3 linked regions of the Homo sapiens genome follow. The protein of the gene in region 1 purifies or fractionates together with the protein of each later gene. This does not show direct contact. Each region holds a gene or a part of one and is shown in the gene's direction. Other genes may lie near its edges.

What was found.
Region 2: the proteins of DACT3 (region 1) and ZBTB21 purify together in Homo sapiens (affinity purification with mass spectrometry, with the first as the bait; one large-scale study listed by BioGRID). This does not show direct contact.
Region 3: the proteins of DACT3 (region 1) and KIF13B purify together in Homo sapiens (affinity purification with mass spectrometry, with the first as the bait; one large-scale study listed by BioGRID). This does not show direct contact.

The regions. Positions count from the first base shown.
Region 1 is NC_000019.10:46,647,545-46,651,287, reverse strand, and holds the end of DACT3 (dapper homolog 3), read left to right. Parts: intron 1-1,415; coding exon 1,416-2,806; 3' UTR 2,807-3,737; downstream 3,738-3,743. UniProt on the Homo sapiens protein: May be involved in regulation of intracellular signaling pathways during development. Specifically thought to play a role in canonical and/or non-canonical Wnt signaling pathways through interaction with DSH (Dishevelled) family proteins.
Region 2 is NC_000021.9:42,008,135-42,011,877, reverse strand, and holds the start of ZBTB21 (zinc finger and BTB domain-containing protein 21), read left to right. Parts: upstream 1-1,517; 5' UTR 1,518-1,626; intron 1,627-2,280; exon of another isoform or gene 2,281-3,743. UniProt on the Homo sapiens protein: Acts as a transcription repressor.
Region 3 is NC_000008.11:29,070,941-29,074,583, reverse strand, and holds part of KIF13B (kinesin-like protein KIF13B), read left to right. Parts: intron 1-2,267; coding exon 2,268-2,964; intron 2,965-3,643. UniProt on the Homo sapiens protein: Involved in reorganization of the cortical cytoskeleton. Regulates axon formation by promoting the formation of extra axons. May be functionally important for the intracellular trafficking of MAGUKs and associated protein complexes.

The DNA.
Region 1 (3,743 bases):
AACATGGTGAAACCCCGTCTCTACAAAAAATACAAAAATTAGCTGGGCGTGGTGGCGCGTGCCTGTAATCCCAGCTACTCAGGAGGCTGAGGCAGGAGAATCGCTTGAACCTGGGTGGCAGAGATTGCAGTGAGCTGAGATCATGCCACTGCACTCCAGCCTGGGTGACAGAGCGAGACTTCGTCTAAAAAATAAATAAATAAATAAATAAATAAATAAATAGATAAATAAATAAACCAGGATAAATAAGTAAAATATCTAGGGTACGAAATAATGCCATGTGCTATGACAAGAAATAAGCCGGGGAAAGGGACTCAGAAGTGTCCCTTTGAGTTTGGGGAGGGAAGTGCAATTTTAGAAAATATGGCTGGGGAGGGCTTCACTGAGACTGTAACATTTGAGTTGTGCCCTGAACTAAGTGGGGGAGTGGACCTAGCAGATATCCAGAAGGAAGAGCATTCCGGGCATCTGGAATCTGGAATGGGAAGCAGAAAGGCTCTGAGGCCAGAATGTGACTGGCGCCTGCTTTCAGGAGGCCAGTGTGGCTGGAGTCCTATAAGTAGAGGAGAAGGGTCAGCTCAGTGGTTCATGCCTGTAATCCCAGCACTTTAGGAGGCTGAGGCGGGAGGATTATTTGAGCCTGGGAGCTGGAGACTAGACTGGGCAACACAGTGAGACCCCATCCCTACAAAAAATAAAAAAATCAGCAGGGCATGGTGATGCGTTCCTGTAGTCCCAGCCGTTCAGGAAGATAAGGCGAGAGGATCCCTTGAGCCCAGGAGCTGGAAACTGCAGTGAGCTATGATTGCGCCACTGCACTCCAGCCTGGGTGACAGAGCAAGCAAGAACCTGTCTTAAAAAAAAAAGGCCAGGCGCAGTGGCTCACACCTGTAATCCCAGCACTTTGGGAGGCCGAGGCGGGAGGATCACGAGGTCAGGAGATCGAGACCATCCTGGCGAACACGGTGAAACCCCGTCTCTACTAAAAATACAAAAAAATTAGCCGGGCGTGGTGGCGGGCGCCTGTAGTCCCAGCCACTCAGGAGGAGAATGGCATGAACCCGGGAGGCGGAGCTTGCAGTGAGCCGAGATCGGGCTACTGCACTCCAGCCTGGGCGACAGAACGAGACTCCGTCTCAAAAAAAAAAAAAAAAAAAAAATAGGGGGTAAGATGTTGTGAGAGTTGGAGAGGCAGAGGCAGAGGCAGGACAAGTCACGCAGGGTCTTGTAGGACCCTGTAAAGATTTTATTATGAATTTTACAAGAAGGAAGGTGTGAGAGCAGGGTTTTTGCTGCGATGAGGATGGAAGGGAGGGAGGCAACCCGCCCCTTCCGGGCTGGATGAGAAATGGGAAAGGACTTTGAGAGCCCCTCCACTCTCTCTTTTTTTTTTTTTTTTGGCCTTCCTTCCCTAGGAGACGCCAGTCCCAGCGCTCCGGAGGTGGTGGGCGCGCGGGCAGCGGTGCCGCGGTCCTTCTCAGCGCCCTACCCGACGGCAGGGGGGTCCGCCGGCCCGGAGGCCTGCTCCTCGGCGGAGCGGCGGGCCCGCGCCGGGCCCTTTCTGACGCCCAGCCCCCTGCACGCCGTGGCGATGCGCAGCCCGCGGCCCTGCGGCCGCCCTCCCACCGACTCGCCCGACGCGGGGGGCGCAGGGCGGCCCCTGGACGGCTACATCTCGGCGCTCCTGCGCAGGCGCCGCCGCCGGGGGGCGGGCCAGCCCCGGACCAGTCCCGGGGGCGCGGACGGCGGCCCGCGGCGCCAGAACAGCGTGCGCCAGCGGCCGCCCGACGCGTCTCCGTCCCCCGGCAGCGCGCGACCCGCGCGGGAGCCCTCGTTGGAGCGCGTCGGGGGCCACCCCACCAGCCCTGCCGCCTTGAGCCGCGCCTGGGCGTCGTCGTGGGAGTCGGAGGCGGCACCCGAGCCCGCTGCGCCGCCCGCCGCCCCCTCACCCCCCGACAGCCCGGCTGAGGGCCGCTTGGTGAAGGCGCAGTACATCCCGGGCGCGCAGGCGGCCACCCGAGGCCTCCCTGGCCGCGCCGCCCGCCGCAAACCGCCGCCACTGACCCGCGGCCGCAGCGTGGAGCAGTCACCACCCCGGGAGCGTCCCCGGGCCGCCGGCCGCCGTGGACGCATGGCCGAGGCTTCGGGCCGCCGCGGCTCGCCCAGGGCCCGCAAGGCCTCGCGCTCCCAGTCTGAGACCAGCCTGCTGGGCCGCGCCTCCGCGGTCCCTTCGGGGCCCCCTAAGTACCCCACGGCGGAGCGGGAAGAGCCTCGGCCTCCACGGCCACGCCGCGGCCCAGCGCCCACGCTGGCGGCCCAGGCCGCAGGGTCCTGCCGTCGCTGGCGCTCCACTGCGGAGATCGACGCTGCCGATGGGCGCCGCGTGCGGCCCCGAGCCCCTGCGGCGCGTGTTCCCGGCCCCGGCCCGTCCCCGTCAGCTCCCCAGCGTCGTCTGCTTTACGGCTGCGCGGGCAGCGACTCCGAGTGCTCGGCTGGGCGCCTGGGGCCCCTGGGACGCCGGGGGCCTGCGGGAGGCGTCGGCGGGGGTTACGGGGAGAGCGAATCGAGCGCCAGCGAGGGAGAATCGCCTGCCTTCAGCTCTGCCTCCAGCGACTCAGACGGCAGCGGTGGCCTCGTGTGGCCGCAGCAGCTGGTGGCGGCCACCGCGGCCTCTGGGGGTGGAGCAGGTGCAGGGGCGCCCGCAGGCCCCGCCAAAGTCTTCGTGAAAATCAAAGCTTCCCACGCGCTCAAGAAAAAGATACTGCGTTTCCGTTCGGGTTCTCTCAAGGTCATGACTACAGTGTGAGTTTGGGGATTTGCTTGGGCTCCCCCTTCATGGCCTCTGCACCTCCACACTCCCAACCACTGACCCTTCCACATCTACCTTCCAAAGACCATCGTTTTCTCTGCTTCCAAAGACCCCCCTCACTCTCCCCACTCCTAACAGTCTTGGTTGAAAAGGCTCCCCCACCACCACCGAGAGGAATGGGGAGGAGCCCTGTTTGACCCAGTTCAGCTTCTAGCTTGGAAGCCCTTGGGCAAGACAGTTCCCCTTCTCTGGGCGTCACTTTCCTCATCTGTACAGTAAGTGTCCATGTATGCAAAAGGGGTAATTCGGTTTGAATTTCCCCGTTTTAGTTTAGAAGCCTAGTCTGTTTGTTCCCCTCCACCGCTCTCCCTCTCATTCCTGATGAGCCCTCTCATTCCTCCTTTCCTTGCCCAGCTATGGCCCCCTCTCATTCACAAAGTGCCCCCTCCATGTCCCTGGACCCTTAAGATATCCCCTTGGCACCCTGGTCAGAGACTCTGTGTCTGACTCAGGTGGTCCCTGCAGAGTGCCCTGGGAAGGGAAGGAGCACTGATTTGGGGGTTTTGAGGGTCAAGTAGGGGTTGGTAACACCTGGAAAGAAGGACTCTTTCACTTCGATCCCTGGACAATTATGGAGGATTCGGAGGTAGAAGAGGGGAAGGAAGATGGTTTCTATCTCATGACCCCCACTCCCTGTGAGAGGGAATGGGGGAAGCCTGATGACCCTCAGCTGTTCCAATCTAGTATTTTTTTTCTTTTTTAAAATTACTGTATTTATTATGACGATGGTGACTCCCCAGTGCAAAGGGGGGCCAGATTCTGTGTGTTTCTCTAACCTCTTTGTAAATAAATGCACAGTGTAACATATGTGGTGGACTCTCACTGAATGATTAAATGGGAGAAATGCTCTTTTTCCTTTGGACTAACATTTATT
Region 2 (3,743 bases), on another chromosome or scaffold:
TACAAAAATCAGCTAGGTGTGACGGATGCACCTATAGTCCCAGCTACTGCCGAGGCTGAGACGGGAGGATGGCTTGAGCCAGGGAGTGGAGGCTGCAGTGAGCTGAGATCATGCCACTGCACTCCAGCCTGGGACTGACAGAGACTCCATCTCAGGAAAAAAAAAAAAAAATTTAAAGTGTTTTAAAGTTGTAGGAGAAAATTTTTAGGTGCAAGATTCTTTATGTAAGACTAAGAGTCCTCTTAAAATTAGTCAAACTAATAATCTACAACAGAGCTGTTAATTTGGCAACAAATTTTTAATTTGTATCAATCTAATGTCTGTCTTTCACATACTTCCAAACATTACATAAATTATTTTACCTAGTGCATACAACTTTCAAAAACTGTATTTGGCAATTAACAGACCCCTGACAATTATTAACAGGGGTTTTACATCCCGGAGTTTGAGTGTCTGCGGGAGAACCGTCCCTGCAGGAGGCACTCCCCCTCCACCTGCGACCCGGGCTGGGAGAACGCGCGGAGGGCTCCCTTGAGCGGTCTCCGCCAGCGAGGCTTTCCTCCCGGTCGGTGTTGACAGTGTGGCATTTCTGTTATCTAATTTCTGGTTTTGACTGAAAGCGAAGTGAGTTTTCTCATCAGTGGAGTTGTAATATTTCTGCAAAAAAAAAAAAGATCACAGCCCTCCGATGAGCCGGGCACTATGCGAAGTCTCCGGCTGCCTGCGGGCCGCTGTGGACGCCCCGGCGGGGGTCAGGACCGACCCCCATCTGCGCGGCGAACGAGCCCGGACGCCCTGGCCGCGGCCGCCGGGTCCCCGCCCAGGGGCCAGGTGGCCAGGTTGCGTCGGGAGGAGGAAATGGAAGCGCTCTGAGCGACTAGCGAGCGGCAGGAGCCGCCTCCCGCGGGCTTTCCTCGCGGGCCGGGAGCGTCTGCCGCCGACCCGAGGACCGCAGGGCCCCGCTCGCCGCCCGCGCCCGTCAGAAAGCCGCGCGTCGCTCCCGTCGCTGTCGGGGTCGTCGGCTCGGGGAGTCGCCCGCCGTCCACCGGTGAACGGGAGCGCGTCCTCCCCTCCGAGGGACTAAGCGCTCGCGCCACGCATCCCGCCGCGCCGGAAGCGGGGACTACTGGCGGCCCAGCTGGGCAGGACCGCGGCCGAATGACCCGGGGCGACCCCGCAGCAAGGGCGCCTCCGGCAGGCGGCAAAGTCCCCTGAGAATCGGCGCGCTCCTCGCCGCGACGGACTCCACCCGGCCGGGGCGCTCAGCCTCCTCGCCGTGGCCCCCAGCCCGGCCGCCTCCCCTAACGGCCGCCGCAGGCTCCCCTCATGGACCGAGAGCGCGGGCTTGCAGCGCGGCAGCGTCCGTTCGGCGCGCGGCTCCGGGCAGGCCCGCCCTCCCCCGTCCCCCTGCGCCGCGAGGCCCCCCCCCCGCCCCGCCCTCCGGCGCCCGGCGCCCAATCAGAGTGCCGCGCACGTGACGAGCGATGCCTGCGATGACCTCATCCCTGGTGTGGGATGACGTCAAATTCAAGATGGATGGAATCACAGCGGCAGCGGCGGCTGCGGCGCGCGCGAGCCGAGTGTGAGCGGAAAGGGGCCCGGCGTCTGCCTCGAGACTGAAGACCGGTGAGTAACTGTCACGCCCCTAGCTCTAGGAGAACTGCGGGGCTCCTTGGGAGGCTACAGCCTCCCCGCAAAACGCGGCCTTTCCTGACGTAACTCTGAGGTGATTTCTCTCCTCTTTTTTCTCCACCAGCGGGTTGCGGGCTCCGAGCGCTTCTGCGCGTGCGCGGGACCTGGGCGCTCACCGAGCATGTCCCGGGTTCCCACGTAGCCGATTGTACCTTCACACTGCGCACGCTCCCTGCCAGCACTTGGCCTCGCCCTCGCGAATGCGCATGCTCCATTCCCTCACGGGCTTCACTCTTCACCCTGGCCGAGCTGCCCCTGGGGTAGGGGACACGCCTGGCCCAGGCGCGCGCCCCTCGCGCGGAGCGGTTGAAACGCCTCGTGGAGAAGGGCGCGTTCTCCTGTTCCGGGCAGGGGTTGGGGGCCGGCGGCCCGGGCCGCGGGGTGTGCGCGGAAGCTGGCCGGCGGCCTTGGGGACCCCGCACCTGCCGCGACCCGCCGCTCCCTTCACGGTCCGGGACCTAGCCCCGCCGCCCCGTCCTCGGCCCGGTGGCCGGAGCGTGACCGCTCGGTGCCCGCTGGACGCTCCCTCCCCGCCCCCGGCCCCTCCCGCGGACGCCTGGACCTCACAGCGCGTTTTTTTTCCTCCAGAGCCCCCGCAGACCTTGTCTGGGACTTCCCGGCGGTCCCGCAGAGCATAGCACCCTCCGCCGGCCAGGAGCCCTGCTGCTCGGCCGGCGACCGTCTCCCCGCTTGGAGGAGCCCCCTTCCCCCCGTCCGAGGTCCGCGGCTGGAGGGGCAGGGAGTCAAGACGCCACCCGTGCCGGCCTTAGAGACGCCCGCGGCAGCCCCGCCACATCTCTTCCCGGCTTTTCGGGAACACGCCCCGTAGTCCATCCTCAGCGGCTCCTGCTTTTCCATCCCAGCACACCGCTGGGGGCTCGCACTCTGCCCCCGGTTGCTATGCGGTCCCAGCCACGAGGGCTCTGCGGTTCGGGAGAATTCCGCAAGAGCGCGCGTTCGGAGGCGGGGTGTTTTTAGACAGGTGCCCCGGTGGGATTGCCTGACCGAGAGGACGGGGAAAGTTAGACTTCACACGGCCTGGGGTTTTTCCTTTCGTGCAAGCGCTCACAGCCCTGGCACCGAGCCTCCGAGGGCACGCGTGTGTTACAAAATAGTCCAGCGATTGTTCACACGATGACCCTGAGTCCTCAATTAAGCAGCTTACATTACGGTCCTCATACCTTGTTTAAGAAGACAAGAAAGTGGGTTAATCCATTTTAGAAAGATTTCTCATGGAAAATTATCTTTTAAAGCTTTCCTCGTGTACTTGGAGTAAATGATGATCTCTAAGGACTAGTAGTCATTAAGTTTAAATTTAAGCACCCCTAAATATTGATGTTAAAAAGAAAGTCAAAATTTGAAGTGCTGGTTTACTTAAAAGTAACTTTTTGTTTATTTTTCCTTTTTAACACTTTATTGAAAGTATAATGTGCTTCATTCTGTTGAAATAGAAGTTGAAGAAGATATAACCCCTGCCCTCGAGGAACTTACACTGTTGAATATTAGATGTGTACACTCTGAAGGAAAAATTGTAAATAACAAAATTGGGGTTAAGTTAAGAAGGTCTCTCGATGGAAATGAGATAATTAAAGGGACAATTTTTTCTTTTCTTTTCTTTTTTTCTTTTTTTTTTTTTTTTTTTTTTGACAGAGTTTCACTCTTGTTGCCCCAGGCTGGAGTACAATGGCGTGATCTTGGCTCACTGCAACCTCCGCCTCCCTGGTTTTGCAACCTCCGCCTCCCTGGTTCAAGCGATTCTCCTGCCTCAGCCTCCTGAGTAGCCGGGATTACAGGCTTCCGCCACATCGCCCAGCTAATTTTTTTTTTTTTTTTTTTTTTTTTTGTAGAGACGGGGTTTCATCCTGTTGACCAGGATGGCCTTGAGATCTCCTGACCTCGTGATCCACCCCACTTGGTCTCCCAAAGTGCTGGGATTACAGGCATGAGCCACTGCGCCCAGCCGAAGGGACAGTTTTAGTTGTCCGCAAAGCCAATGGAAGTAGAGAGAGCAGATTATAAGCTATGTAAGAGCTAGGTTTGACCAGGTCACA
Region 3 (3,643 bases), on another chromosome or scaffold:
CTGGTCAGCAGGATGGTCAGAGCAAGCCCCTTGCCAGTGAAGGCAGCAGCTTCTGTAGCTCATCATGGTGGTTTTCCAAGCTTGGGCTTTTGCAGAAGTCTCCAGAAATGTCTTCTTCAGTGGCAAGGGTATAATCCATAGATGGCATCTGGGTTTCAACTCACAAATCAACTCCAGTCAAGTGGGGATGGGGCCTGGAGTGCCAGTCTGTGCTTTCCACCATCCTGCTCCCTGCTTTGTTGACTCTGCAGCTCTGCCCCCAGTGCCTGCCTTTTCACTTAGTGCAGCCTTGGATGAGGGCTTTCCCCTCTGGAGGCCTGCTGTAGAATAATGCCATGATCCTTCCAGCCCAGCCCAAGCCAGTGTCTTACATGGAAGCCAATGGGATGATGATACTTGCAAATCTGAGGCATGCAGCTGGCCTCATCCTGGGAGAGCCTGGCCTGGGGAAGTGACAGTGGCTGGCCTTACCCGGGGTGGGGGCGGGGAACAGAAGCCATTTCAGGACCCTGGTTACCGTTCAGATTCCCGGCTCTCATAGTTTTGCGTATTCTCCCCTGTTGGGTCAGTGATATTAAAACTAAAATAGAAGAGAATAAATAAAACATGGACAATGTGCAAAGGAAGAATGATTGAAGGATTGCCTAATCTTTTAGAGTATTTATGCTGGTGACAGTTATTGATCTATTGGATTGAGTAAATTTTGCAGCCTAGAGATTCACCACAAAAATGGGCTGTTAATCTCAAGAGGTGCCATTAATTTCCTACCCTGAAAGTGTGGTTGGTGGGGAAAAGAGGGCCCCTGGAAACGGGAATATAAAGGACAGTTCCTGGGAAAACGCATGATTTATCAAGCTGCTGAGGTAAGCCAAGTAACTGTAAGAGACGTATAGATCTCAGCCGCTTCCCCATTCAAATAAATCCCGTATTTCAAATGGAAAATGACCATTCCTGTAATATAAATAATTTTTCCATAAATATCGGAAAACATATTTCTTCTGGATAGCAGTGCTCTCCACCCCACCAATCTCATTCCCTGTTCCTGCCTTCTCCTTTTCTTCGGTCACTGTGAATAGGAATAGAAAGATGATCTGGCAGCCTCTTCACATGGCTTCAGTTATAGATGAAAGAATGCCCCAGAAACAATAGGATTTGGGCAAGCGGTGGCTGCTCTCCCCCATGAGATGTGGGCTTTGAGTGTGTGTGTGTCCTCTGCCTGGGTGACTCAGACAGAGTGACCGACATGAGGAGAGCTGCTGGCCTCACTTGGTGGCTTCTCCCTGGGGGCTGCTTCCTGGCCTCTCTCCAGGGTCCGAGGCCCCCCCAGCCCCTGACATGGCACCTGCTTTCCATAGCAGCCAGAGCAGCAGCCTTGGAGAGAAAGGGCCACGGCCCACAGGGAGCCTTTGTCCCCTCCTCATCCCCCTCCTCGTCCCCCTCCTCGTCCCCCTCCTCGTCCCCCTCCTCGTCCCCCTCCTCGTCCCCCTCCTCATACCCCTCCTCGTACCCCTCCTCGTCCCCCTGCTGCCTTGCTCGGGATGCCCAGCCAGGCTGCAGGCCCGTGGCTCCTTGTTGGTGCCTGAGCTGGCCAGGCTGTGCTGAGTGTGTTCCGGTCCTCCGATGAGATCATTGTTTAGGTTTTGCCGGACAAAAAAGTGCTCTTCTGGTCTCTTTAGTGACTCAGTCTCTTCGTGAGGTTGGGGGTGGGCAGGGGCTTTGTCTCCATGGGAGGAAAGCTAACTAGCCCTAGCAGGGTTTTAGCGTGCACCTACTGTGTGCTGCCCTCTGTGGCGAGGGGCCTTGGTCTTTGTAGCGTGCTGGCCCTGCATGGCAGGCCCTGGATTCTATTTTGTATGAAAGGTAAAAAGTAGATGGGGCAGGGGCTGTGGCCATGGTCAGTGCTCTTGAGCCTGGGCACACAGCACAGGGCCTGCGGGGTGCACTGTCGGCCCCTCAACCTTTATCACTTTGGAAGCCAGGGCCATGCAGCCCTAAGTGGCAGAACCAGTGTGGGAACCAGGGCCTGGCCGGGTCCCAGCCATGTTCTTTATTTATTTATTTTGTCGAAACGGGGTCTCACTATGTTGCCCAGGCTGTTCTTGAACTCCTGGGCTCAAGCGATCTTCCGTCTTGCCCTCCATAAGCACTGGGGTTACAGGCTGAGCCACTGCCCCTGGCCTCATGCTCTTTTCCAAGTCAAAGCTGCCTGCTTGGTTCGTGTTGGAAAGTTTTCTGTTCTCAGCCCCTGCTTCCCCGTCCTGCTGCAGGCTCAGCCGGAGATGGGCCCTGACGTGCTGGTGCAGACGATGGGGGCCCCGGCCTTGAAGATCTGCGACAAACCTGCCAAAGTGCCTTCCCCACCGCCTGTCATAGCTGTCACAGCGGTCACCCCGGCTCCGGAGGCACAGGACGGGCCCCCCAGCCCCCTGAGTGAAGCCTCTAGCGGGTACTTCTCCCACAGCGTCTCCACCGCGACCCTGTCGGACGCCCTGGGCCCCGGCCTGGACGCTGCGGCCCCGCCGGGGTCCATGCCCACCGCCCCTGAGGCCGAGCCCGAGGCGCCCATCAGCCACCCCCCACCGCCCACGGCCGTCCCCGCCGAGGAGCCCCCTGGCCCCCAGCAGCTCGTGAGCCCCGGTCGGGAGCGCCCCGACCTCGAGGCCCCGGCGCCCGGCTCCCCGTTCCGCGTCCGGAGGGTGCGGGCCTCGGAGTTGCGCTCCTTCTCGCGCATGCTGGCTGGGGACCCCGGCTGCTCCCCGGGGGCCGAGGGGAATGCGCCGGCCCCGGGCGCCGGGGGACAGGCCCTGGCCTCTGATTCCGAGGAAGCTGACGAGGTCCCGGAGTGGCTCCGAGAGGGCGAGTTCGTCACCGTGGGCGCCCACAAAACGGGCGTGGTGAGATACGTGGGGCCTGCCGACTTCCAAGAGGGCACGTGGGTCGGCGTGGAGCTCGACCTGCCCTCAGGTGGGTACCGGGCACTCCGGGCTCCAGGGTGGTGCCGGGGGTCTGGGGAAGCAGGAACGTGGCCGGCCTGGGAGGGGACAGGGTCCGGGCAGGAGAGGGAGGGGCCGGGAGGCAGCGGCTTGGCTGAAGCTGCGGGAGCGGCTGGGCCTGCAGGGGTGAGGCTGGGGGCAGGGCTAGTCCCTGGAGACGACATGGAAAATTCCTGATGATTTTGGCTACAAAGATCCTGTACCCATCCCCCCATCGCCATGGCTGTTCCCGCTTTTGTTCCGGTCTCCCCTGCCCTCTGCACTCCCTGGGCTCTGCTTTCTCATCCTTCACCTTAGAGCATCTCCCCTTTGCCGTTCCAGGAGGCTCTTCCTCACCCCATCCGGACACATCTCGCTGGCCTCTGACTCGCCCTCATTTGGCAGTTTTGCCAGTTTCCATTTCATAGATTCAGCAAAAGAACCATTCTCCCGCCACCCAGCCCAGGCCTGGGTCCAGATGGAGAAGGGTCTGTTCCCGCACGAGGCGGGCCGGTTGTGCCTTAGTGGCTGGCCTGCACCTATGCTTCCACAAGGCACTCCCCAGGGCCCCCAGGGCCTGTCACCTCCTACCTGAGGCTGCAGGACTGGGGCTGTGCATCCTTGGTCACCACTGCTCACTGTCCTGGGAGGCGGTCACCCCAGGCCCTGGC